7 linked regions of the Homo sapiens genome follow. The protein of the gene in region 1 interacts with the protein of each later gene in a pairwise test. Each region holds a gene or a part of one and is shown on either strand. Other genes may lie near its edges.

What was found.
Region 2: the proteins of SYCE1L (region 1) and CYTH4 interact in a two-hybrid assay, tested with the Homo sapiens proteins (one large-scale study listed by BioGRID).
Region 3: the proteins of SYCE1L (region 1) and LCA5L interact in a two-hybrid assay, tested with the Homo sapiens proteins (one large-scale study listed by BioGRID).
Region 4: the proteins of SYCE1L (region 1) and CALN1 interact in a two-hybrid assay, tested with the Homo sapiens proteins (one large-scale study listed by BioGRID).
Region 5: the proteins of SYCE1L (region 1) and TNNI1 interact in a two-hybrid assay, tested with the Homo sapiens proteins (one large-scale study listed by BioGRID).
Region 6: the proteins of SYCE1L (region 1) and ODF1 interact in a two-hybrid assay, tested with the Homo sapiens proteins (one large-scale study listed by BioGRID).
Region 7: the proteins of SYCE1L (region 1) and SRSF10 interact in a two-hybrid assay, tested with the Homo sapiens proteins (one large-scale study listed by BioGRID).

Annotation. Positions count from the first base shown.
Region 1 is NC_000016.10:77,211,562-77,213,715, reverse strand, and holds the end of SYCE1L (synaptonemal complex central element protein 1-like), read right to left. Parts: intron 2,130-2,154; exon of another isoform or gene 1,785-2,129; intron 1,688-1,784; exon of another isoform or gene 1,587-1,687; coding exon 1,517-1,586; intron 1,435-1,516; coding exon 1,347-1,434; intron 1,143-1,346; coding exon 1,070-1,142; intron 860-1,069; coding exon 785-859; 3' UTR 501-784; downstream 1-500. UniProt on the Homo sapiens protein: May be involved in meiosis.
Region 2 is NC_000022.11:37,299,508-37,303,007, forward strand, and holds part of CYTH4 (cytohesin-4), read left to right. Parts: intron 1-1,399; coding exon 1,400-1,512; intron 1,513-3,500. UniProt on the Homo sapiens protein: Promotes guanine-nucleotide exchange on ARF1 and ARF5. Promotes the activation of ARF factors through replacement of GDP with GTP.
Region 3 is NC_000021.9:39,442,979-39,447,259, reverse strand, and holds the start of LCA5L (lebercilin-like protein), read left to right. Parts: upstream 1-1,481; 5' UTR 1,482-1,535; exon of another isoform or gene 1,536-1,810; intron 1,811-2,514; exon of another isoform or gene 2,515-2,616; intron 2,617-3,058; 5' UTR 3,059-3,125; intron 3,126-4,281.
Region 4 is NC_000007.14:72,101,339-72,104,838, reverse strand, and holds part of CALN1 (calcium-binding protein 8), read left to right. Parts: intron 1-3,500. UniProt on the Homo sapiens protein: Negatively regulates Golgi-to-plasma membrane trafficking by interacting with PI4KB and inhibiting its activity. May play a role in the physiology of neurons and is potentially important in memory and learning.
Region 5 is NC_000001.11:201,415,231-201,418,730, reverse strand, and holds part of TNNI1 (troponin I, slow skeletal muscle), read left to right. Parts: intron 1-918; 5' UTR 919-937; coding exon 938-948; intron 949-1,611; coding exon 1,612-1,615; intron 1,616-3,476; coding exon 3,477-3,500. UniProt on the Homo sapiens protein: Troponin I is the inhibitory subunit of troponin, the thin filament regulatory complex which confers calcium-sensitivity to striated muscle actomyosin ATPase activity.
Region 6 is NC_000008.11:102,558,054-102,561,518, reverse strand, and holds the end of ODF1 (outer dense fiber protein 1), read right to left. Parts: intron 1,068-3,465; coding exon 635-1,067; 3' UTR 501-634; downstream 1-500.
Region 7 is NC_000001.11:23,963,847-23,967,087, reverse strand, and holds the end of SRSF10 (serine/arginine-rich splicing factor 10), read left to right. Parts: 3' UTR 1-2,741; downstream 2,742-3,241. UniProt on the Homo sapiens protein: Splicing factor that in its dephosphorylated form acts as a general repressor of pre-mRNA splicing. Seems to interfere with the U1 snRNP 5'-splice recognition of SNRNP70. Required for splicing repression in M-phase cells and after heat shock.

The sequences.
Region 1 (2,154 bases):
CTCGCTTCTCTACCTCGCTTCTCCGCTCAGATACCACTTCCTAGGTGAGGCCGTCGCTGACCGCGCTGTTTAAAATCCAGTGCTTAGAACAGTGCCTGGTACCCAGCAGGCAATCGGCAAATGCCTGCTTAGTCAGTACATGCTCAGTCAATGGCCGCAGCCTGCTGCTGGGTGCCTTTGGATTTGGGTCCCAAATGCCGGCCTCCAGAGTGGCGGACACATTTAACAGATCTGAGGTTGCCTGGGGGATGTGACCCCAGAGAAGGACCAGTAGGGCGAAGGCCCCGAGGGGACACGTGTTTTGGAATGTTTGAGACGGGTGGAGAGGCAGCCTTGGCTAGAACCCAATTTGTGAGGGGAGCTCAGATGGGCGGGCATGTCCCAGAGCCAGCGCGAGTCTGCGGGTCTTGCAGAGACTCTGGGTTTCCTGAGACCACCGGAGACGCACAGGCCCCGAGGACCGGAATGGGTTAACACCTGCCCTCCGGCCCCTGTTGACAACATAGATGGTTTGGGAACTCGAGATGAGGCCGTGGGGCGGGGGATACTGACACCCACTTACTCTCTCTGAGTTCAGGAGCATTTACCCAGCCTCTGTACGGCGCCCGGGGCTCGACTGGTGGGAGGGGTCCGGCAGAGGCCCCGCCTCGAGATCCCAGCACGCCCCGCCCCGCTCCACGGTGTAGCACAGACTCCGCGGAGAACGCGAGCATGGTCGGAAATCATCGCCTTTATTTCTTGGCGGGTCTCGAGGGAAGGTCGGGAACGGGCGGGTCCTGCTGGCCTAGAGGGCGTCAGGGGCAGCCACCGGCGGCTCGGGATCCTCCTCGTCGCGAGCGCGGGGGAGCTCAGGTCCGGCCTGCCGGGGGCTGGGTGAGGCTGCGGACCAGGTTCCTACGCTCCTCGCGTCCGCCCGCGTCTGCCCTAGGCCTCCACCGCGGCTTCCTCTGTCCCCGGGGCCGCCCTGCTCCCCACAGACCCCACTCTCGGGGGCCGCTCCCAGGACCCCCGCCCGCTCTCTCCTGACTCGGTCCCTGCCCGCCCCGCCTCCCTTCCTCGGGCTCCCTACCTCTCCCTCGCCGGCCCCGACCTCGGGGGCGCTCCGGACCTGCTCCCCGAATATCTCCAGCTCCGCCTTCAGCCTGCGGAGAAGGGGCCGAGGAGACAGGAGGAAGAGAGCGAGAGTCCAGGGGACGAGGAGGAAGCCACCGAGACGCGGAGACCCGACGACGCCGAGGGAGGCACAGGCCGGGGAAGCGGCAGTCGGGGGCGGAGCGGGGGACCTGGGCGGGTTCCCCTCCGCCCTGCCCCTGCCCTCCTCGCCCACTCCTCCCTTCCCCTCTCACCCGTCATTCACCGCCATGGCGCCCTCGACCTCAGGCGGCGAGTGCAGCCGCCGCTCCACCTCCCGCAGCTTGGCGCGCACCAGCCTCCCTGTCGGTGGGCGGGCGTCAGGGGCAGGGCCGAGGCCCGGGCACATCCCCCTCCCCCCGCCCACCTGGCGCGGGAGGCTCACTCTCCGAGAGCAGCTGCTCCTTGCTTCTCTCCAGGGCACGGATCTCCCGGGCCAGTCGCTGCTCCAGCATCTGCGAGGACAAAGAGGAGGCCTCCCCGTTTGGCCGTCCTCTTGGCTACACGGCCCGCCCCTCCCCTTTTGTGCTTCTCGCGAAGTCTTCACCTACATTAGGTCATTCATTCATTCAACTATTTATTAACTCAATGTGCAGTTCCTGCTGTGGCTGGAGACCCACCCACCTCCCCCTAAACGCTCTCCATGTCTCCAGGCACCTCTCAAACTTGAACTCTTCCCACTCTCCTCATCCTCCATTCCCCAATCTGCGGCTCCTCAACGGTTTCAGGCACCGTCCAGCCCCAGGGCCTTCCTTCTGCACCGATACCTGCACGGCTTCTTCCCTCACTTCCTTCACCTCTGCGTTGAGATGTCACTTGCTTAGAGGCCTTCCCACTGAAGTTCCACGATCTAGCCACTAACTTTCTTGGTGCCTCCACCGTCCCCAACCAGCTTGGGACAGCAAAGACGTGGACTCTTTGATCTGCTACCCTCCCTCCCTGCCTCAAATGCTGACCGGTGCAACCACTGACATTAGCTAAATGAAGGAATGACCTGACCATGGCTTTCCCTGGGCTGCCATT
Region 2 (3,500 bases), on another chromosome or scaffold:
ATAGCAAATACTGCCTTCTTAGTTAGAATTCTATCATGCCCATATTTAATCATTCTAATCATTATTACTTTATTATGGTCATTCTCCTACTTTTTGGATTAGTGCATGTTTTATTTATTTTATAAGACTGCTTAGCATGTATTCCAATTATTATGACTTATTAGCTTCTAATTAGGGTACTGTTTTTGGTACTCATTTTTACAACTGCAGAGGCAGTCCAATTATCAGTTTGAAGCACAAACTCTGGAGCCAGACTATACAGTTCAAATCCCAGCTCTGCTGCTCACCCCCGTGTGACCTTAAGCAAGCCATACACATGCACAAAATACAAAAATTAGCCGGGCGTGGTGGCGGGCGCCTGTAATCCCAGCTACTCGGGAGGCTGAGGCAGGAGAATCACCTGGACCTGGGAGGTGGAGGTTGTAGTGAGACAAGATCACACCACTGCACTCCAGCCTGGGCAACAGAGTGAGGCTCTGTCTCACAAAAAAATAAATAAACCTTCCTGTGCCCCAGTTTCCTCATCCGTAGAATGGGGATAATAATAGTACCAACTTCACAGGGTTGTGAAGACTAAATGGGAAAGTGTTTAAAACTGGTCCACAGTGAGTGCTTAGTAAGTCTTGATGCTGCTTGAAAACTCAGATTCCGAGAAGGAGCATCTGATCTGGGCTTTGGAGGGTGAGTAGGAGTTCACAATACAGAGAAGGAAGAAGCCACCACCATCCAGTGTTCTCTAACTCCCAGCTCTTTAAGGGAGAGGGGTAGGTGACTTGGGAGTCTCCCATATTCATTCTTTCATTCATTCATTCACATATTCATTCATTCATTCACTTATTTACTGAGCCTTTGCTAGGTGCCCAGGACTGTGTGAAGCCCAGGAGGAGAAGTGAGAGATACAGGCCCAGTTCTCACCTTCAGAGAACTTAGCTTGAAGCTGTCGAAACCACCAACTTCCAGAGCTAGAGGGAAGTCGAGGTTCCAAGAAAGGGAGCCCTAGCAAGGCAAAACCCCTGCCCCACCTCTTCCCCAACTAGGTCCCACAGCCAGATCTCAGGGCCCAAAGGCCAGGTGCGGGGAGCCACAGACCCCGGGGCAGGCAGAGGCCGTCCCCCTTCCCAGCTGAGGCAGACTGGGCTGCAGTCAGTGCTGGGATTCAGACCTGCAGAGCGGGGCGTGTGCTTAGTTCCGTATTCTGCAAGAAAAGGCATTTCTTGGCTACCTCCCGCGTGCTTGGGGCTCCCTGGTGCCCATCCCACTTCCCCGTCAGCCCAGATGACAGTTGCAGATTCCCCCATTTACAGGATACAGAGACTAAACCTGGGAGAGGCAGGGCAGCTTGTCTGGGGCCCGCGAGGGCCCACCCACTCCACTGCCCGTGGCCCCGTTTCTCCCCCAGGCAGTTCCTGTGGAGCTTCCGGCTGCCGGGCGAGGCCCAGAAGATAGACCGGATGATGGAGGCCTTTGCCACTCGATACTGCCTCTGCAACCCAGGCGTCTTCCAGTCCACAGGTGCCAGGAGGGGAGTGGGACCCAGGGCTCCGGGACCCCTTCAGCATTGCCAGGCATAGATTTCACAGACCCCCTCAGGTTTCCCCCAGGTACCCAGACCCTGGCAGCCCAGACCCCTTCATGAGCCCTCACTGAGCACTGACTTCATTGCTGCTGGGTGCTTGTCTGACAGAGCTGCCTTGAGACACAGTTCTTAGGAGAGCAGTCAGGAGACGATGGCACAGGATGCTAAGGCTAAGGCAGCAGCACCCCTTTCTGAGGGCAGGAGTAAGGGAATCAGCATGTCCAAGATGGCTTCTCAGAGGCGGTGAGGTCTGAATGGGGTTTTGAAGGATGAGTAGGAGTTTTCCAGGAGGTTAAGGGGAGAAAGGGCCTTTTTGGCAGGAGTTTCAGTTGGAACAAAGGCCCAGAAACATGAAACAGCCTGGGCAGGGTGTAGGGGGCAAAAGGGGCATAGAAGGAGATACATAAAGGTCAGTCCTCCATAGCCCTCTCTCCCAGGGCTAACCCAATGCCCATGTGAAGACATCCAGAGGACAGGGTGGGCGAGGGACCATCCTGGCCTCTTCTCTGGATCTAGTTGTCATAACAACAATAACCAACCCTGTATATTGAGTAATCCCTATGCGCTGAGTGCTTTACACAGGCAAAGCCACTCAATCCTTTTTTTTTTTTTTTTTTTTTTTTTTTGAGAGAGAAAGAAAGTCTGTCTCTGTCACCCAGGCTGGAGTGCAATGGCGTGATCTCAGCTCACTGCAACCTCCGCCTCCCAGGTTCATGCAATTCTCCTGCCTCAGCCTCCCAAGTAGCTGGGATTACAGGCACCCACCACCATGCCTGGCTAATTTTTTGTATTTTTAGTAGAGACGGGGTTTCACCATGTTGGACAGGCTGGTCTCGAACTCCTGACCTCAGGTGATCCGCCCGCCTCGACCTCCCACAGTGCTGAGATTACAGGCGTGAGCCACCATGCCAAGCCAAAGTTACTCAATCCATACATCAACCGTTTGAGGTCAGTAGTCTTCTTATCCCTCCCTCACGCATGGAATATAGCTTCAGAGAGATAAAATGACTTGTCTGCGAGCACGCCGCCTCCTGGCTGTGTCCATGGACAAACCTTCCAGAACATTTGCCCTACTTTGTGGTTAGATCTTAATTTAGTGTTTGTTTGCTTGTTTATTATCTGTCACAAGTCTAAATGTCCTGCAAGGGCAGGGACCCTGTCAGACCCATCATCAGTGACTCCCAGGCCCACAGCACAGAGTATGTACTCAATAAATAGTTGTAGGTAGGAAAGAAGGCATCTTAAAGCACCAGATTTGAATCACGGTCCAATTACTTCTTAATTTTGTAATGTTGGGCATATAGCTTAACTTCCTGTGCCTCGGTTTCCTCATCTGTAAAATGGGAGTGATAACAAGACCTGCCTCATAGGATGGGCATGGGGATGTGAGAGCTTAGCACAGGGCAAGCACCAACAACGCTCGGTGCCACTGCTATCAGAGATGGAAACATTGATGTTCCAGAACAGGCAGTTACTTCAAAGATTAACCTCTGAATGTCAAGGATGGGGAAGCTGAAGGTCAGAGAGGTCAAGTACTTCCCAAGGTCAACCAGAGAGTTGAAGATGCAGCTGAACTTCCCTGGCTCTGGATCCAGGGCCCAAATACTCGACAAAAGACCTTGCCAGAGTAGCAATTACCTCCCTCCCCAGCCATCAGCCCAGCCCTCCCTCCTGAGTGCTTGAAAGTCTGAATAATGGGAGAGGCGCTGGGGCTCAGGAGGAACGCCAGCAAGATTACAGAGCAGCAGTGGCTCAGCCCTGAACAGTGCCGCTAACAATGAGTGTTCTTCTCCGAGTTCCGAGAGGCAGAGAACAGAGTGGGCAGGGGGCTGGAAGGGCTCTGCGGGGAGGAGGTCCTGAGCCGTGGCTGAGCGAGAAGGAGGATTGAAGCGGAGAGGAGGGAAGGAAGGGCAGGCCTGGCAGG
Region 3 (4,281 bases), on another chromosome or scaffold:
CAATGGCAAAACTCCGCTCTCGTTACTGTCATGGGGCCACCACCACCCACCAAGCATCAGCCCATCTTTCCATAATGTCAAGTCTAGAGTGACATTTGTCTAATGTTTGCCTACCTGGAGATGTTGCCCCGCCCACCACCACCAGCAAAAACAACCGGCACCCATCTTATACGGATAATTCCCTACCTAAGGAGTTCTAGAAATGCATGGCCCACCAAAACTCAGGGTGGGTCATGCATTTCTAGAGGAAGAAATGGTGATATGGAGAGAAAGCTTGTCCTAACCCACTTCTACCAAAGTAGGATTAAAGTCAATTTGAAAAAAAACACCCGTTTCTCCTTTTATATAAAAACCAAATGCAGAAACTATAGAGAAATGTAATAAGCTTGACTCTACACAAATACCAAAATACACTGTAAACAAAATTAAAGGTAACTGACAAATTGAGGAAATATTTGCAACGTATATCACAAGCCAAGTTTTCAAGCATCAAAAGTCCTTACAAAACCCATTTTTACAAAGATGAATGTCAAGTTTTAAAATGGACAAAAGACAGGAAAATGCAAATCACACAATAAGGACAAATGGCACTCAAGATATGGGAAAAAGTCTATTCTTCCTACTAAAAAGGAAGTGAATACAATTAAAGATGCCAATTTTTGACAATAAAATGGGCAAAAAAATTTTAAGAAAAAAGAGAATTTCCAATGCGGGCCAAGTATCGGGACACTTACTGGAAGGCAGTTTCCCTCTACCTTTAGAAAGCCTCAAAGTGAGCATATGCTTTGGCCCTGCAACCTCGCTTGTAGGAATTTATCCTAAGGAAACAGTCAGGGGTGACCTCAAAGATTCATCTGCAAGGATATTCAACATGGCTTTGATGCAGGAAAAAAAGTAAATAAATAAAAGGAAACAATGTAAGTCTTCCTAAATTATGCCAAATTCCTATGCTGTCATTAAAAAACATCTATAACTCCATCATCTAGGTGATTTTGACTTTTGCTTTGGACTTGCCTGTACATTTCTAAATTCTCTATGCCAAACATGCATTGTTTTGTCATCAGATTTTGTTTTACAAAAAAAAAAAAAAAATCGTCTTTATGACAAGGGGTTAATAGGGGAACTGTGCTTCCCAGGAATTGACCAGGCGTCTACACCCACCTACTGACTCAAGTTACCTAAGACTGACAGAGCCTTAAGAGGTCAGGAGAGCGCCAGAGCGCGTGACAGGCTCCCTCGTCTCGGTGCGGCCACGCGGGAAGGCAGGGTCCCGGGCGCCGAACAGGGACGGCAGGAGGATCGTTTACAGACGTCTACACAAGAAACTCACTTCCCGTCACCGAAGACAAACGCGAGGCCACACTGACCTCCAGGCCCAAGACGCCCCTCCCCGCCGCGGCTCCTGCTGCCCGAGTGCGCATGCGCGCGCCCAGCCCCCGCAGGCCGGCGCTTCCCAGGAGGCCCCGCGCGCGGGTTTCCATGGGGACGCGCCGGCGCTGCGGCGTTGGCGCAGTCGTGGGAACAGCGCGGAGCAGGTAACGGCCCCGCTGCTGCCGTCGTCCCCCTCAGCCGGTTACCCTGTTACAGCCCCAGCTCTGGGCCCTTCCGGACCCTCCTGCTACGCTCTTTCTGGGCTTCCAGTATCGCCGGTCACTCAGTCCTCGCCCCTGCCTGCCTCGCTGGCGCCCCGCCGTTTCCTCCTCGCGGCACAGTTTGCCAAGGAACAGCTACCCCGGCTCGGCAGTGACCGGGCGCCCCGGCGACACACGTACTCTCAGGCCCGCTGGGCAGGGGGACGGCCTGGGCCGAGGTGACCTAGCGCTCCCGGGGCCGCGCCTGGGTCTGGCGAGGGGGCGGAGGCCGATCTCACCGCCGCCCCACCGAGGGAACTTTGGGGTTTTTCTATCTGAATCTTCTATCTGACCTCCGATTTTGCCTCTGCTTACTTGCTGTTTTGCTTTGGATTAGTTTTTCTTTCTAACCTTAGCGCTGGCATCTCCCTATCTCGTAGGAATCTAAATCTTTTGAAATGTCTTCTCTGTCTGTGTTTGTCCCCCACTCACCCAGCCTCGGGGCTCTTTATCCACACCCTCCCCTCAGCGTGTTAACGTTTCGTTGCCACACTTAAGCCAACGGTTAACTTTTTTCAGAGACCAGTTTTCACGGCTGAATGTGAGCTTGAGCCTTTTTTCTGTCTACACTCAATCCCTAGATGAACTCATCCAGTCGCCTGTACTCAGAGCCTATCTGAATTCCAGTGAGCCCCAAGTGTGCATTCCCAGCCCTCGCCCCTCCCCTGAACACCAGATCCCTGCATTTAGCTGCCTGCCACATCCCTACTTGGATGTCTACGGCATCTCAAACACAGCTCGTCCAAGATAGCGCTCAATAATTCCCCAAGCCAAGCCTGTCCTCCCACAATCTTAATCCATCATAGTTGCTGGAAATTCCATCCTCCAGTTGCCCGAGTCTTGCATCCTGTTTGAGTCCTGTTTTTCTCTTCCTCACCTTCAGTCTGTCAGCACTGCCTTCAAAATGCACCCAGAATAGATTCACAATTCTACCATTTCTCTCAACCGCCACTGTCACCACCTTGGTCCAGGCCCCCATCATCTGGTGCGTGGATTATTTTACTTGCTTCCTAATTGGTTTCCCTGAGTCTGCCCCTCCCCCACTTGAGCATGACAGTCTTAATGGTATTTCCCCGTTCTCTGTTATTTCGTATGAGTAAGTTTTTTAAAGGATTATATAAATTACAATTTCCTTATATAAATTACAACTTCCATAGGTAAAAGTGCAGTATTTTCAGTATGTATTTTGCAAATTGCAACTTTTAAACCGGGTCAGCAAGGCCATATAAGCATCCTGCTAACAAGCTAAAAATGTAAAGACACCCCTTAGCTTTGTTAGGTATAAATATGACAGTGCCCCTGGAACAGAACTATGGCAAGAGCTTTACAAGGGACTGTCCTGAAGAACAAAAGAACCCAGAGCCTTCTTCCCAGCGCAAAGACAGGAATCATGTAGGAGTTTAAGCTCTTCCTTTTTTATTTTTTAGAGAAGCACCAAAAGAGGCAAACTGAGATGCAGACAAATGATCATCCGTATGCTGATCATTTTGAATAGTAAGTACCTGGGTGCTGATACCGCGATCAATGTGACAGGTCCCTGCCCTCAAGGAGCTAAGGCCCCTAGCCAATCTCTCTTTTTTTGTTGTTTTTTTTTTTTTTAAGACAGAGCCTTACTCTGTCGGCCAGGCTGGAGTGCAGTGGCAAGATCTCGGCTCACTGCAACCTCCATCTCTGGGCTCAAGCAATTCTCCTGCCTCGGCCTGAGTAGCTGGGATTACAGGTGTACGCCACCATGCCCAGCTAATTTTTGTATTTTTAGTAGAGATGGGGTTTCACCATGTTGGCCAGGCTGGTCTCAAACTCCTGACCTCAGGTAATCTGCCTGCCTCGGCCTTCCAAAGTGCTGGGATTAAAGGCGTGAGCCACTGCGCCCGGCCCTACCCTTGCCACTCTCTTAAACTCCTAGCCCCATCTTTTCTCTTTTGCCATCAGGTAAAACCCCAATTAACCAAAGTAACAGAGTAGGATTGCCACGGTTAGCTGAGGGTCTGTAGGAGATTGCATTTCATAAATGACCATTTTCCTCAGATTTGATCTCCCACCACGCCCTTGTGCTGTCACTTCATAGAGAAGCTTGAAGCTGTCACATGGGAATCCCCTCATTCTTCAGCTCCCAAAACTGCAAGCCTTACTTATATCTGTTCCTACCTTCCTTCCTCCTCCTAACCAAGGCCACTCCCTCTCCGTGCTTTGGATCCCATCGCTTTCCACTCGCCAAAAACTCTACCCTGTCAGGTATACATTCCCTCTCCTGTATGATCACCTGTTCCATCTCAGCTGGCTCTTTGCCATGGTTTTGAAGCATGTTCAAGTCTCCCATCACAAAAGAGAAAAAAAGAATCTTCTTTGACCCCACGTTCCCCTTCAGTTTCCAGTTATTGTCCAATCCCTTATCCCTTTCGACAGGCAAACTTTAAAGAACTGCCATATTCAATGCCTCTATTATTTGTCTCTCACTCCTCAGCCAGTATGGCTTCCCTCTTCATCTCTGCTAAAACAAAAACCAGGAATGAGACTTTTTCAGGCTTTGTCTTGCTCAATCTCTCAGCGGCATCTGAAACTGCTGCCCCCATTTCACTCTACAAACACTGTCTTCCCTTGGCTTCTGTGACCATCCCTGACTCTTCTGCTTTTCCTGCTGCCATTCTGG
Region 4 (3,500 bases), on another chromosome or scaffold:
ACTAGAGGCATGCACCACCACAACTGACTAATTTTTGTGTTTTTAGTAGAGACGGAGTTTCGCCATGTTGGCCAGGATGGTCTCAATCTCCTGATCTCGTGATCTGCCCACCTCGGCCTCCCAAAGTGCTGGGATTACGGGTGTGAGCCAGCGCGCCCGGCCTAAATTGTGTATTATTTTGGGTTCCAAGATACCTGTGCTTTTTCTCACTTATAAGTGGGAGTTAAATGATGAGAACACATAAACACATAGTGGGGAACAACACACTGGGGCCTGTTGGGGGTGGGGAGGGAGAGCATTGGGAAGAATAGCTAATGGGTGCTGGGCTTAATACCAAGGTGATGGGTTGATCTGTGCAGCAAACCACCATGGCACATGTTTACCTATCTAACAAACCTGCACATCCTGCACATGGACCCCAGAACTTAAAATAAAAGTTGAAGGAAAATAAAAGAACACCTTCATCACTCCAAAAAGGAATTCCACATCTCTTAGCCATCACCTCCCAATCCCCCTGTCCCTGCAAGCCCTAGGCAACCACTTTTCTACGTTGTCTGAGAGACTGGTCAATGGGTAGCAGTTGTTGGTCTCCAGACGGAGGTCCTAACCCAAGACCAGAGGGCTCATGTGTTGTATGTTCTTCTGGTGAGCTGGGGATTCTCATCTACCAGCTTGGACTTGAGGTGTTCCCTGTGGGCCAGGGTGTCTCCAGGCCATTCATTGATTCTCTGCTTCCCACAGACACACATTTCCTAGGCAACCTGGAAAACAAATCCTAGACTTAATCCTGGCCCAGTCACTGTCCCCATTCTTGCCCAGCAGACTGATGGAAGGGGATTCTAAGGAAGAAAATGGCATTATCTTCCTGCCCTACCCCACAAGCCCATATCCTGCACACTGCCTCACTACCTCTAAGTTTTTTGGGATGGTCTATCCCAAGGACACGATAACCCGCAAGCTTTGGAGCCTTCTAAGCTGGAGCTACTGTGTCATTCCCATTGTCACTTCCTTCTGTCTGGACGTTCCCATTGTCCAGATCTGTTCAGAGGCTTCACTCTCAGCCTCCTTCCCCCCCCCTCCATTTCCATCTTCTCCAAAGCTTCAGAGAAATGACCTGCAGCTTATTCTCCAGTGACAGTGGCAGTCCCCTGTCTAGTCCACGCCCTTCTTAGTAGAATCCTGTTTTTGGATTGAAGAATCCTGGGACCAGTAGCAAAAGCACCCTGTTTTCTACCCAACTCTCTGCCCCATTTGGCTCAACAATCCCAAGTTGGTTAACATCTCCAAGTAGCTACTGAAGAAATGAAGTGTTTCATTTAACACTTTCAAAGTAGCCCCATAAGTAGAGCCGTAAGATCTGGTCCTTGCCACCTGTGTCTACACTCTGAGCCTCTTTTCTTAATTCAGTAAGCAAGTACTACGCCCCTTCATATGCCATGACTGCTCCACCCAACCACCTAGACACTCTCTGCTGTACCTCACACCTGGCCAGGACCTCACTTGCTGAATGAGTCCAGAGTCATAGCTGACTAGCTTCATACCACCCTCAAACTCATTGATGGTGTCTTCCAGGATATCGATGGTCTCAATATCCAGGTGATTGGTGGGCATATCCAGGAGAGGAGTATGTAGGGGTTCTGCCAGGTCAGCCAGGCCAGGCTAGATTCAGAGATTTGTGCAACGCATACCACAGTCGATTTTAGAACATTTTCATTGCTCCAAAAAGAAACCTTGCACTTCCTTTTTTTTTTTTTTTTTTTTTTTTTTTTGACGGAGTCTCGCTCTGTCACCAGGCTGGAGTGCAGTGGCACAATCTCTGCTCACTGCAACCTCCGCTTCCCGGGTTTAAGCAATTCTCCTGCCTCAGCCTCCCAAGTAGCTGGGCCTACAGGTGCCCACCACCATGCCCAGCTAATTTTCATATTTTTAGTACAGACAGGGTTTCACCATGGTGGGCAGGATGGTCTCGATCTCTTGACCTTGTGATCCGCCTGCCTTGGCCTCCCAAAGTGCTGGAATTACAGATGTGAGCCACCACACCCAGACAAAACCTTGTACCTCTTAGCCATCACCTCTCAATCCCCATATTTCCCCAAGCCCTACACAAGCACTTCTCTATTTTCTGTCTCTATAGTTGCTTCTGCTGGACATTTTCTACTAATGGAATCATATAATTTGCCTTCCTTTGTGAGTAGCTTCTTGCACTTACTATAGTGTTTCCAAGGTTCACCTGTGTTGTAGCATTTATCATGACTTCATTTCTTTTGATGGCCATATTCCTATTCCACTGTATGGACATAACAGCTTGTTTTATGTCTATTTTCTATTTACTGAGTTTCTGCATACAACCTCACTGGAAAAAATACAACTTTGTAGTGTTTTTAAAATTTGCGACAGAGTCTCACTCTGTCTTACGCCCAGGCTGCAGTGCAGTGGCATGATCTTGGCTCACTGCAACCTCCATCTCCCAGATTGAAGCTATTCTCCTGCCTCAGCCTCCTGAGTAGCTGGGGTTACAGACGTGCGCCACCACGCCCGGCTAATTTTTGTATTTTTAGTAGAGATGGGGTTTCACCATGTTGGCCAGGCTGGTCTCGAACTCCTGAGCTCAAGTGATCCGCCTGCCTCAGCCTCCCAAAGTGCTGGGATTACAGGCATGAGCTACTGCACCCAGCCCTCGTAATGTTTAAAAAGCTTTGAAAAATGGACTGGGCACAGGAGGCGGAGGTTGCGGTGAGCCAAGATCGTGCCATTGTACTCCAGCCTGGGTGACAAAGAGTGAAACTCCATCTTAAAAATAAAATAAGCTTTGAAAAATGACTGCATTTGATAATCTTTAAGTTTCTTCCCTAGTCTAAAACCCTAGGTTTTATCCCAAACCAGCTAGATCCTGCCTTAGATAAAGGTCCAGGAAGGAGGCCTCTTTGTTTTGTTTTGTTAACACATACCCTTTCCCTCTGAAAAGCAGCTTAATTCTAGGCATCGGGCACGAGAGGACTGGGCTTTTGGCGTGCCCAGGTTGAGCATTAGATATACACCAAGAAGCAAGGACAGAGGAGATGGGCAGGAAGTCTCTTTGGAAGAACAGACCAAGGTTATGATAAGGAGATGTTTGCTTGGCCTGCAGGCCAGTTGCAAGAGCGTGGTTTTAGCCTGTTATCTTGCCGGACTTGTTGGGAGGATGATAATAAGGGTGACCATATGGTGAATGGACCCTAGGGCCAACCGCCAAGTGCAGCTGTAGACATTTATTTTCTGGTTCAGGATAGAGATGTTTTATCCAGGGTATTCAGTTGTGTGAGCGGTTCTCAGCTTGTTCTCCCAATTCTGATTGATGGTGACTCACCATGTCTTTGTAGGCCTGATTTGACGTTGCTTTATATTTTAGAGATATTTCTGAAAAGCTGGAGCAAAGCACACCTTTTACAGCAAGATCTCACTTCCAGTGACTTCCATCATTATTTCAGAGATACATTTGCAGGGAAAAAAGTTTCCTCCTT
Region 5 (3,500 bases), on another chromosome or scaffold:
TGCGGCTTATTCTCTCCCACTCAAGGCCTCCCACTGCCCCACCCTGGAGGTGCCAGTTGCATTGCCATCTGTGGATGGAGTTGTGCCATGTGGCAGCTACCCGTTTTCCAGCATCCACTCTGCTCATTCACTTTCTAGGCCTTCCTCTCTCTGAGCCCTTCAATGACCACCCTTATTCCACAGGATAAAGTCTAAACTCAGCCTGTCCTTCAAGGCCCTCATGAGTGAGCTACACTCTCACTTATTTTTTTTTTTTTTTTTTTGAGAAGGAGACTCATTCTGTTACCCAGGCTGGAGTGCAGTGGTGCGATCTCGGCTCACTGTAACCTCCGCCTCCTGGGTTCAAGCAATTCTTCTGCCTCAGCCTCCTGAGTAGCTGGGACTATAGGCGTGCACCACCATGCTGGCTAATTTTTGTATCATTAGTAGAGACGGGGTTTGACCATATTGGCCAGGCTGGTCTTGAACTCCTTACCTCATGAACTGCCCGCCTTGGCCTCCCAAAGTGCTGGGATTACAGGCATGAGCCACTGCGCCCAGCTGCTCTCACTTTCCAAACATATTTCCTATGGACTCCATTCTGTTCTCCACTGGGATTGGCAAGCTTTATCTGGAAAGGGCCAGATAGCTTTGTAGCTCACATAAGGTTTCTGTTGCAAATTCTTAAAAAAAAAAAAAAAAAAAAAGCTTACAATTCTTTAAGCAAAAACAGGCTGGGAGCCAGGTCAGGCTTATGGGCTGTAGTTAGCTGACCCCTGCCCTGCAACCCTGTCCCATCTTGACCTGCTGGAATCCAATGTGTCTGATTTCTTCCTTTTGTGTTCTGACTCTGTCTCCTAGGCTGGGCTCCCAAGGCCCAGCTGGGCAGGGGCAGGGGTTTCCACTTTCCCTTATGAATGATTCCTCTGTGCCCCCTAGGTGCTGTCTCACTGCCACCATGCCGGAAGTGTAAGTAGTCTCACTGCCATCTGGGGCCCCAGGAAGGCAAGTCCCTTTGCCACAGACTTCAGCCCCGCAGTGGAGGCACCATGTTTTCAACCCCCAAAGCTTTTCCCTAAGAGACCAGGTCCTCAAACAGGGGCAGCACTTGATGGTTTCCCCTGTGCTGCCTGTGTCCTCCCAGCCATTGAGCAGAACTCACTCCCAGGTTGCCCTGGGAGTGCCTTTTTGGCTTGTGCCTCAGAGATTTCCTGTCTTGATCTATCACATGAATTGCATGTACCAGGCCACCACTTAACACTGGTGCAGTAGGTGAACAAAGCTTTGGGAATTTACCCACGCACCCGTGGATGGATGCTTTCACGTTGCTGGAACCCTACGCTAAGGCTTCCCTCCCCTTCCACCACTTGTCCCCAACTTACGATGCCCAGTACCTCCCAATAAGAATGCCCCGTAGTTCAAAGGGCTGTTGAATTTTTATTTTATTCTGCCGGAACCTCAAACCGCTCCCCTTGCCTGATGCCTGATGACTTTCTGGCTCACTGTTGTCACTGGCCCCCTCCTCCCCCAAGCTGGTCTGTGAGGTTCTGCGACTGCACATGTAATCCTCATTGTTCATACTCACTCTGTGTTCTGCTCTTTCCCCGTCCTTCCTGTGATGGATGCCTGAAGCGAGGTAAGTGATATTTGGGGTATCTCTGTCTTGGTTAACTCTAACGACTGGTAAAAGTGGGAAGGTGGGGTTGGCATCTGAGGAGAGGGAAGAGCCTGTGTTAAGGCCTGGTGGGAGTCCAGGGGGTGTAGGGTATTTAGTGGCTGAACAAATTCCCAGGAGATGGAAACGTCAGGTGAAGATTCTGGATGTGGGGCTTCCTAGTGTCCAGGGAGTTGCTGTGCCAGTGTACCATGTCACTGGAAGGACTGGTATTGCAGCAGGGTTGGGTGTGACTCTGCATCCTTGCTGAGCACAAGCTCTTCCTCACCCACTCTGAGAGCTGGTCCAGTCCTGGGGGGACCATCCTATTCCATGCAGAGCTGATCCTGTGCAAAGCTATATTGGAAGGGTAAGGGATAGTCATTGGGTTATTCCACCCTTGCCCAATGGCTGAACATTGATTGAGGAGCAAAGAGATGTCCTTAAATCCCTCAGGTGTTAGAAAACCCTGACACTGGCCATTCTATACACTCCAGACTTACCAGGCTACTGAGATCACAGCCTATGTACAGTCCAAGGATGGGGATGGCAGGGATAGGGATGTGGGCCCAGGGATGGAAACAGTGAGAATTAGCAGTATTGATGGAGGGGATATTTGGCACAGAGATTCTCAGTAAGAATTGAACATGTTACTTTTCAACATTCATATGAATTTTTAAGTTTTGCTGAGGCTCGTATTAAAGTGAGTCCTCACTGACTGATGGTCAAATGAGGTGGCCATCGGCTCACCAAGTGGTGGGGAAATAAGATCGCAGTCAAACATTTGCCATGTGTACATTACAGTGTGTAAACCATGGTAGTAATGCTTAGAGTCATAGGCTCTTTCTTTTGAAATTGCACTTATCTGAAATGTAACAAAAATCTTTAGGAGAGGAAAAGACAAACCAACCACTCTGAACAGTCAGAATAGAAGTTACACATTCCATTTGCTGAAACTCATCCATTGTCTCTCATGAGAACTTCCCTCTCAAAGCCTAATCACTTCTACTTGACACCCTGGAATAACATTTGAGAGCCATGCTCTGCCGGCTCACAGCACATTAAGTCTAGGTAGGATGCTTCCTGCTGGCAATGAGAAGTGACCGCCTATGGCCCAGAAGATACTCTAGTGCTCGAAAGGCATCACAGTCTCATTAGTTGGGGACCAAGCAGCCCTACTACTCACCTTTGCCAACCCTGAGGGACCACTGTCACAGGGCTAGGACTAGTAAGCAAGAACATGTTTAGGATTTTTGATAAGAAGATAAAACAGTGGTTTTATATCTTAGAAAGATTTGTATGGGTGGTGTTAACATTTTTAAAAGTTTTGAGGTCTACATAGATACGTTTCATTTATTTGGGAAATTCACAGCTTATTTATGCAGCATGACGGATCATCAAGGTATTGCTGTATTACTACCTGGAGTGTGAAAACACATAGCTTTTACGATTTTCAAAGGATTTGCACATCCATGATCTCATTTCATCTGCAATAACTCTGTGAACTAAGTAAGGGGGGGGGTCCTAATATCCTTATTTACAGATGAGGAAGGAGGTGCCTGTAGAAGCCATGTGGCCCTCATAGTATCTTACAAGATTTCAGCAGCAGCAGAATCAGAGTGGGAAGTTAAGGCTTCAGCCCCTAGGTCAAGGTAGCTGACTGCAGCCTTCTCTGAACTGCAGAGGTTAAATAACAAAGATGAGCTTTTAAGGCACCGTAGGGTGAGCAGAGGATTCCGGATAAAGATAGAGAACGCTGGCTGGCACTTGTCTTGTCCTAGACCAGAATTCCAGTTCTGCAGCCTCTGCCTCACCACCTGTCTCTCTCTCTTCTTGCCCACAGAGAAAACCCAAGATCACTGCCTCC
Region 6 (3,465 bases), on another chromosome or scaffold:
GTTTGGCATCCATATACTAACCAGAGCTGGCCAATCCCCCAAACCACAAGAATGTTGAAAAATGACAAGCTGTATGGCCACCCCGCCTTGGCCAGCAAACATGCCCCTCGTCCCACCTACCACCCCGTAGTTTTTGTATCCTGATCATTGTCCAGTAAAACCACAATCCCACTGTGCTCGAGGAGTCTCTTTTCCAGACTCCCTACTGCAGTAGCTTTGAAAAAGTGTTTCCTTCAACTCTAACTAATCTGTTTCTGCTTTGACCATTTGGTTTCTGGGCTAGGCCATTTCACTGGATCATCTGGAAAACAATGTCTGGGGATGCCCACCAGAAGAGTGTCTTCTCCTGGAGTTTGGAGGTAGTTGAGTATGGAGGAGGGAATGGGAGGGTGGATCTCACCATATCGTCCTTCTATTGCCATCCACTAATTATTCCAATGTTCACTAACTCTGCAGGGCTCCTGCAGTGGGTTTAACCAAAAGACTTTCACACAACACCAGCAGATTGCAGTTATGTATTCAGTTTCCTACGTACTTCAACAACAGGGGCCATGGGAAGGAGAGGAGAAACATTGGGAGAGCTGCCTGGCTGGAGTAACTGACTTCTATTAAGTAATGGGTTCCTATGCGCACTTTACAAAATCATCTTCCTACAGGAAAATCGGCTTCCACAGGGATAACACGGGTTGCAAGGATCATATGGGCTGCACGGGTTGCAGGGGCTGCAGGGGTTGCAGGGGCTGCAGGGGCTGCAGGGGCTGCAAGGAGAAGTGCAAGGGTAGCAAGGAGACTCGATCTTGACACAGCTGCCGAGCCCATAGGAGTATGTTACATCCTTCTCATCCACACAGGGCGGCAAGCTGAACTCTTTGCAGATGTTCATGTAGCTGTACTTTTTCGATCCAAGGCAGTCGTACCTGTTCTCCCGCTCAGCCGACACACATACCTTTCCATCCTTCACTCGAACTTTGACTTGATCGGGTTCAAAACCGCATACATTCACCGATCCTAAAATGTTACTGCTACAGCAGGAGGAAGCCAGAATTCTATTTGTTGTTCTTCTCAGTCTGGAATTGAGAAAAGGGATAGGGTGGGAGGGAGCTCAGACCTCAGAATCCAGACACAGCTTGAGAAGCAATATTTTGATTTCTAGCTTTTGAAATAGCCAAAGTTAATACTAGCCATTGTGAAAATAAACTTTACACAAATGCATGAAGTAAAAAGTGTGAGTCCACCCATGCGAATCACACTGCCCCGCAAGTACACAGCTGTTAACAATGAATGCGTGCTGCCTGCCCTTCCAAATCTTCTCTCGTATTGAAATACCAGCTCCTCCTCTTATTATTGATCCTTGTGTAGGTTCCTTAACCCTTCTGTACCTCAGTTTCCTCATCTGCAAAATGGAGATAATAATAATGATAACAATAATAATGCCTGCATCATATAGGGCTATTGGAGGATTAGATGAGATTATGATATTTTACTTAGCACTGTGCTTCGTACATTATAAATCCTGCTTAATTATTACCACTCTCATTATTATTACTGTAATTAAATTGTGTATATAACTATAATTAAATTATATAAAAATTATATTTTATATTTATATAGATTAAAAAATGGGATATAACTAAGATACCACTTAAAATCTGCATTTTAGAGATGGCTGTCAGCTTTCGAACCCAGCCCTACTGGTTCATGGGACAGGTGCTACCTCTTGCAATTGCACAGAGACAGCCTGAAAGCTCAATCAAACAATGATGGCAGGAGAGCCCTGGCCTGGCTCTGCCCAGGCTGGTGTTGTGTGAAAGTCTTTTGCCCAGCGCCTGGCTCCTCCAGGCTGGGAAGTCACTCTAGCCTCTGGACAGCTAGCACTAGCAGAAAGGCAGTCAGCTGGGTGGGGCCGTGTTGATCAGATACAGAACAACCTCTCAGTGGTGTCCATAATCAGGATCACATCAGCTAGCAAGAGCTGATCGTGTACATCTCTTCCCGATCCCCAGTTAGTACTGCACGCTGATAGCTTGAAATCAATCATAGTCATGATGAGGATATTTACACCATGGAAATTGGAAAATGCTACATATTAGGGCTCTCCTCTGTCCTCACTGCAGAGCTACTGTGGTTCCTACCTTGTTGCTATTCACTAATTCTATTGTGTAAATCCTTAATAAAAATAACAACAGCAGCTCACACTAATTGATCAGTTATGATCCGTCAAGAGGTAGTAAAGCAAAGTGCCTAAGAACAGACTCTGGAACTGGAGTATCGAGGTTTAAAGCTTGGCTCTAACATGTGGATAACTTACTTCTCGGTGCCTCAGTTTCCTCATCTGTAAAACTGGGACAATAAAAATAGCCTACATCATAGGGTTGTTGTGAGGCTTAAATCAGTTAATGCAAGAAAATATTTACAATAATACTTGGCACATAGGATGTTAAGGTTTTGTCTTTTCTTTTTTTTTTTTTTGCAATGTGCTGTGGAAGGTGCTAAGCATGTTAAAGGCATATTTCATTTAATCTTTACAATAATAACTGTGATGCAGATGTAATTATCACTATATCACTTTTGTATGTTGAATTTTGTTTATGCAGTTACTTCTTTTTGTTACATAAGTTATACAAGTTCATTGTAGAAGACTCAAAATACAGATAAGTAAACATATGGACTATTTTAAAAATACCTATAATCTCATATAACCCTTAGCATTTTGGTGTTTGACTTTATGTGAGTGTGTGTGTGAGTATGTGTCTGTGTGTGTGTGTGTGTGTGTAGTTCTATATACATGTAGAGAGAGAGTTTTGTATGTGTTCTTATGAAATCATGCTATACGTACTGATTTTTATCTGTATTTTCCACTTAAGCCCTAACATGATTAGATAACAGTTTGAGTGCTCACTACCCTTGTACTGAAAGTTACAGATCAAGACTCTTAGTGGCTAATTATAAAATGATCAAACAGAACTCAGTCCCAGAAGACACTGAGGCAAACAGAAACAACTTGTGTAATACACCCAGAGGACTGTATTCAGTCCCATTTCTTTTTTTTCTTTTTTCTTTTTTTTGAGACGGGGTCTCGCTCTGTTGCCCAGGCTGGAGTGCAGTGAGGCGATCTCTGCTCACTGCAAGCTCCGCCTCCCAGGTTCATGCCATTCTCCTGCCTCAGCCTCCTGAGTAGCTGGGAGTACAGGTGCCCGCCACCATGCTCGGCTAATTATTTTTTGTATTTTTAGTAGAGAAGGTGTTTCACCGTGTTAGCCAGGATGGTCTCGATCTCCTGACCTTGTGATCCGCCCACTTCAGCCTCCCAAAGTGCTGGGATTACAGGCGTGAGCCACCGCGCCCGGCCTCAGCCCCATTTCTACCTCTGGCCCCATGAAACCTGGGGGTGGCATGGGGCATGATTGTCTTTCTTGCCCTGGGTGTGCCAGGGTACCCTATGCCACACTAACAAGAAGTAGGAGA
Region 7 (3,241 bases), on another chromosome or scaffold:
TCTTCTCACCTCTTTCCTAGTCAGTATATTCAGCAAATATTTATTGAGCCCTTACTGTGGGCAAATCATTGTACTGGATAATTGAGAAAAATAGATAATTCCCTTATTCAGTAAATGTCTACTGAGCACAATCTAGTGAATCATTACAGTATGGCCTCATTGTTTTGTTTGAGGTGTGTTATTCATAACAATATTTTACACCATTCGTATCAATGTAATTATAGAACACAATATACGATCAAGGATAAGTAATTGTGTGGTTATCTGCCATTTAAAAGTATCCAGTATTTGATCACATTATTATAAATAATGAAAAAATGATTTAATCTGTAATAAACTGGTTTATTGTGCAGTGACTGTAATATACTAGAGTTATAATAAATTGTTTACTCTGCCTCACCAAACACATGCTAGGATATAACCCCCAAAATAAGTATTTAACTTTGCATTAGGTATAAAGGAGACTGGGTGCTATAATTAGATTATTTTGAGGCAGACAGAGAGCTGTTATCCTAACTGATTTAGTATGTTCTGTAATTGAGAAAATGTTCACCAAATTATACTTTTTAGTGATTTACATGTACATTTTATAGGGGACATGTTCTGTGTATAGCGAATAAATAACTTTTATAGTATCACAAAATGTTTTGGATTCCTTAGTTTCTTATTAGGATATGATGTTTCTTTACCTATACATTGATTTCATCACATTTGATTTTTGTCATCTTTTTTGCCACATACTTAAAATTTTCCATATAAAATTAACTAAAAATCTGGAAGTGGAATTTAAGCTTTTAATTTGTAGCAATTTTGAAAATATAGCAGAGGTATATTTTCAAGGGAGGTGTGAAATGGAGGTATTATTGTTTGTATTTTATTTTAGAAATTTTGTTTGAACTTGCCCAAGATCACACAGCAAGTGTCAGATCCTAGGTTACAGCCCATAATTTTTCACTTGTTTCATCTTTTGTTACCATGTTTGTTGTTTAATCCAATGGGGAAGTGTTTTTATAGCTTTATTTTCATGGAGATAGTAACATTGATATAATGGGATCTAGAATTTACTTAGAGTCAAAGTGACTAGATTTAATTACAAAAAGTATTTTGTTGTATACCGTTATACACTCATTAACATAGGGGTTCTTATGGACAGAGGTTCTATGTATTTTTAAAAGAATATGTAGAGGCTATAGACTTTTTTGCCCTCTACCTCCCTTCTCCATTTCCTTTTGAAGTTAAGACATTTAAGGGGGAGAATTAAGGTGCATATTGAGTTGGGGTTTTGTTTAAAAAAAATTAGGTAAATACATATATAACTACAATAACAACAGTTGGTAGTTCTCTAAAATATTTAATTATGGTAAATCAGAAAAGGCCCTTTAATTTTTGCATCTGTTGAATGAATTGCTTTAGGATCTCTTCTGTGGTTGTTTCTCTCTATACTGAATGCTGTCAATATTATTGAGCACTTACTGTGCCGAACCATGTGCTTTTCAAATATTTCTATTTAATCCTAAAAACACTCCTGGGAAATGGGTATTATTCCCATTTTACAGATGAGAAAATTGTCCTTTGTAGAATACCCATCATGTGATAGCTTCTTGCATATTATGCTATTCATTTCTCACAACCTTACAAGGTAAATGGATAATGTTCCTGGATGAGAGATTAAACGTACTCGAAGATCTTATGGTTGTGTGGCTCAGAGACTCTAAGCATGGCTTTCCAAATCTCATTCTCTTGTAGAGATTTTCCATTGTATTGCATTTTGACCATGTTCCTGTTTACAAAACCTAAGATTATATTCTGAAGTATCTGTGACTTGAGTGATAGCTCAGGAATAATCTGAGGGCATTCTATTAGGAAGGAGGACTAGCAAAGCCTATAGTTAGCCTATCCTAGGCATGAACTATTCTCATTTTAGATAGGATGACTTGATAAATAGGATGAAGTGAGCAACCTGTTTGTCTTCGGTTATTGCTATCTACAAGACATTCTGCTAGTCACTGTGGAAAAGTTTCCTTCTCTTGGGTTTTTTCCTCTTCCCCTTCCTCTTAACAGTGTTGGTTATCTTTATTATGTTTCTGTGTATTTGTAACAGCTGTTTCACCCTTGTATTGCATAATGGGGATTTTTCTTGGAATAAAAAGTGAGGCATGTAAATTCATTGAGAACTAACCGTAGTTTGTAAAGAAGTAAAAGGCCTTTGTATCTAGTTTTTTGCAGATCACATTTCTTTGAATGCTGGAAAGTGAAATAAACTGGTCTAGGAGCCAAAAATAAATCTTGGGTTTTTTTAAGATTTTGCTCTTAGATTTGTAACCACCTGGGTACAACTTTTTCCTAATTTGTGTAAGAGGTTTTAGAGATGCACTCTGTCCCTCTTGCTTTACAAATTGCCTACAAGAATGCAACCAAAATACTAGAAACTGAAACTTACACAAAACCTTTCAGGTTTTTTCCTGTGTTGTAGTTCTAGGGAAGAGGATAGTTTATTAGTATTTATTTTAAGCTTAAGGATAGGTTTTGGACCTGGATTCCATCATAGTATAACTGCCATCGAAAAGAAGACAAATTGAAATTACAGCATTTACCTAAGGTTCACAGTATGGCTGACTTCAGCAGCCTTACATGGTAAGTTCTCTGTACCAGCTATTTTTGGTTCTCGCAATTGCATCGACTTGGGAAATTCCTATCACCATTCTCTATATAGGCTAACCAAAACTTTTATCAGTACCTTTCCTAAAGTATGAAGTTAGGTAATCTTCCACTCCCACTTCCATTTACTCATTTTGCTTGAGTCAAACCAAAAATCTAGTGTATTACTAGATTAGTCACTAAAAATCTAGTGTATTCAATATATACACTAGATTCAATATATAGCTTAAAAACTAACAGACACCTAGGCTGAGATTTGTCCAATACATGAAGTTCAATTCTGCAATCCTTGGCATTGTTCACAGAAATTACCCTGGAAACAAAATGAACACCCAAATGCTGGTTCTGCCTTAACTCCAAATTGTTAACTAGTTTGCATGAAAATAATACAGCTTTGCCATGGGACTAGTTGTAGCATTTTAAGGATTACTCAAACTAGTTTTAAGATGCCCTATCATTTGGAATCTGTATCAGAAAGGTGTGGTTGTGATGCTTTTCTTCTGAGGGGTCCCCTTATATACTTTTCATTTGTCAACATACTTAAAACACAAGGGTTCTTGTCAACTTGATAAATTTGCTTATA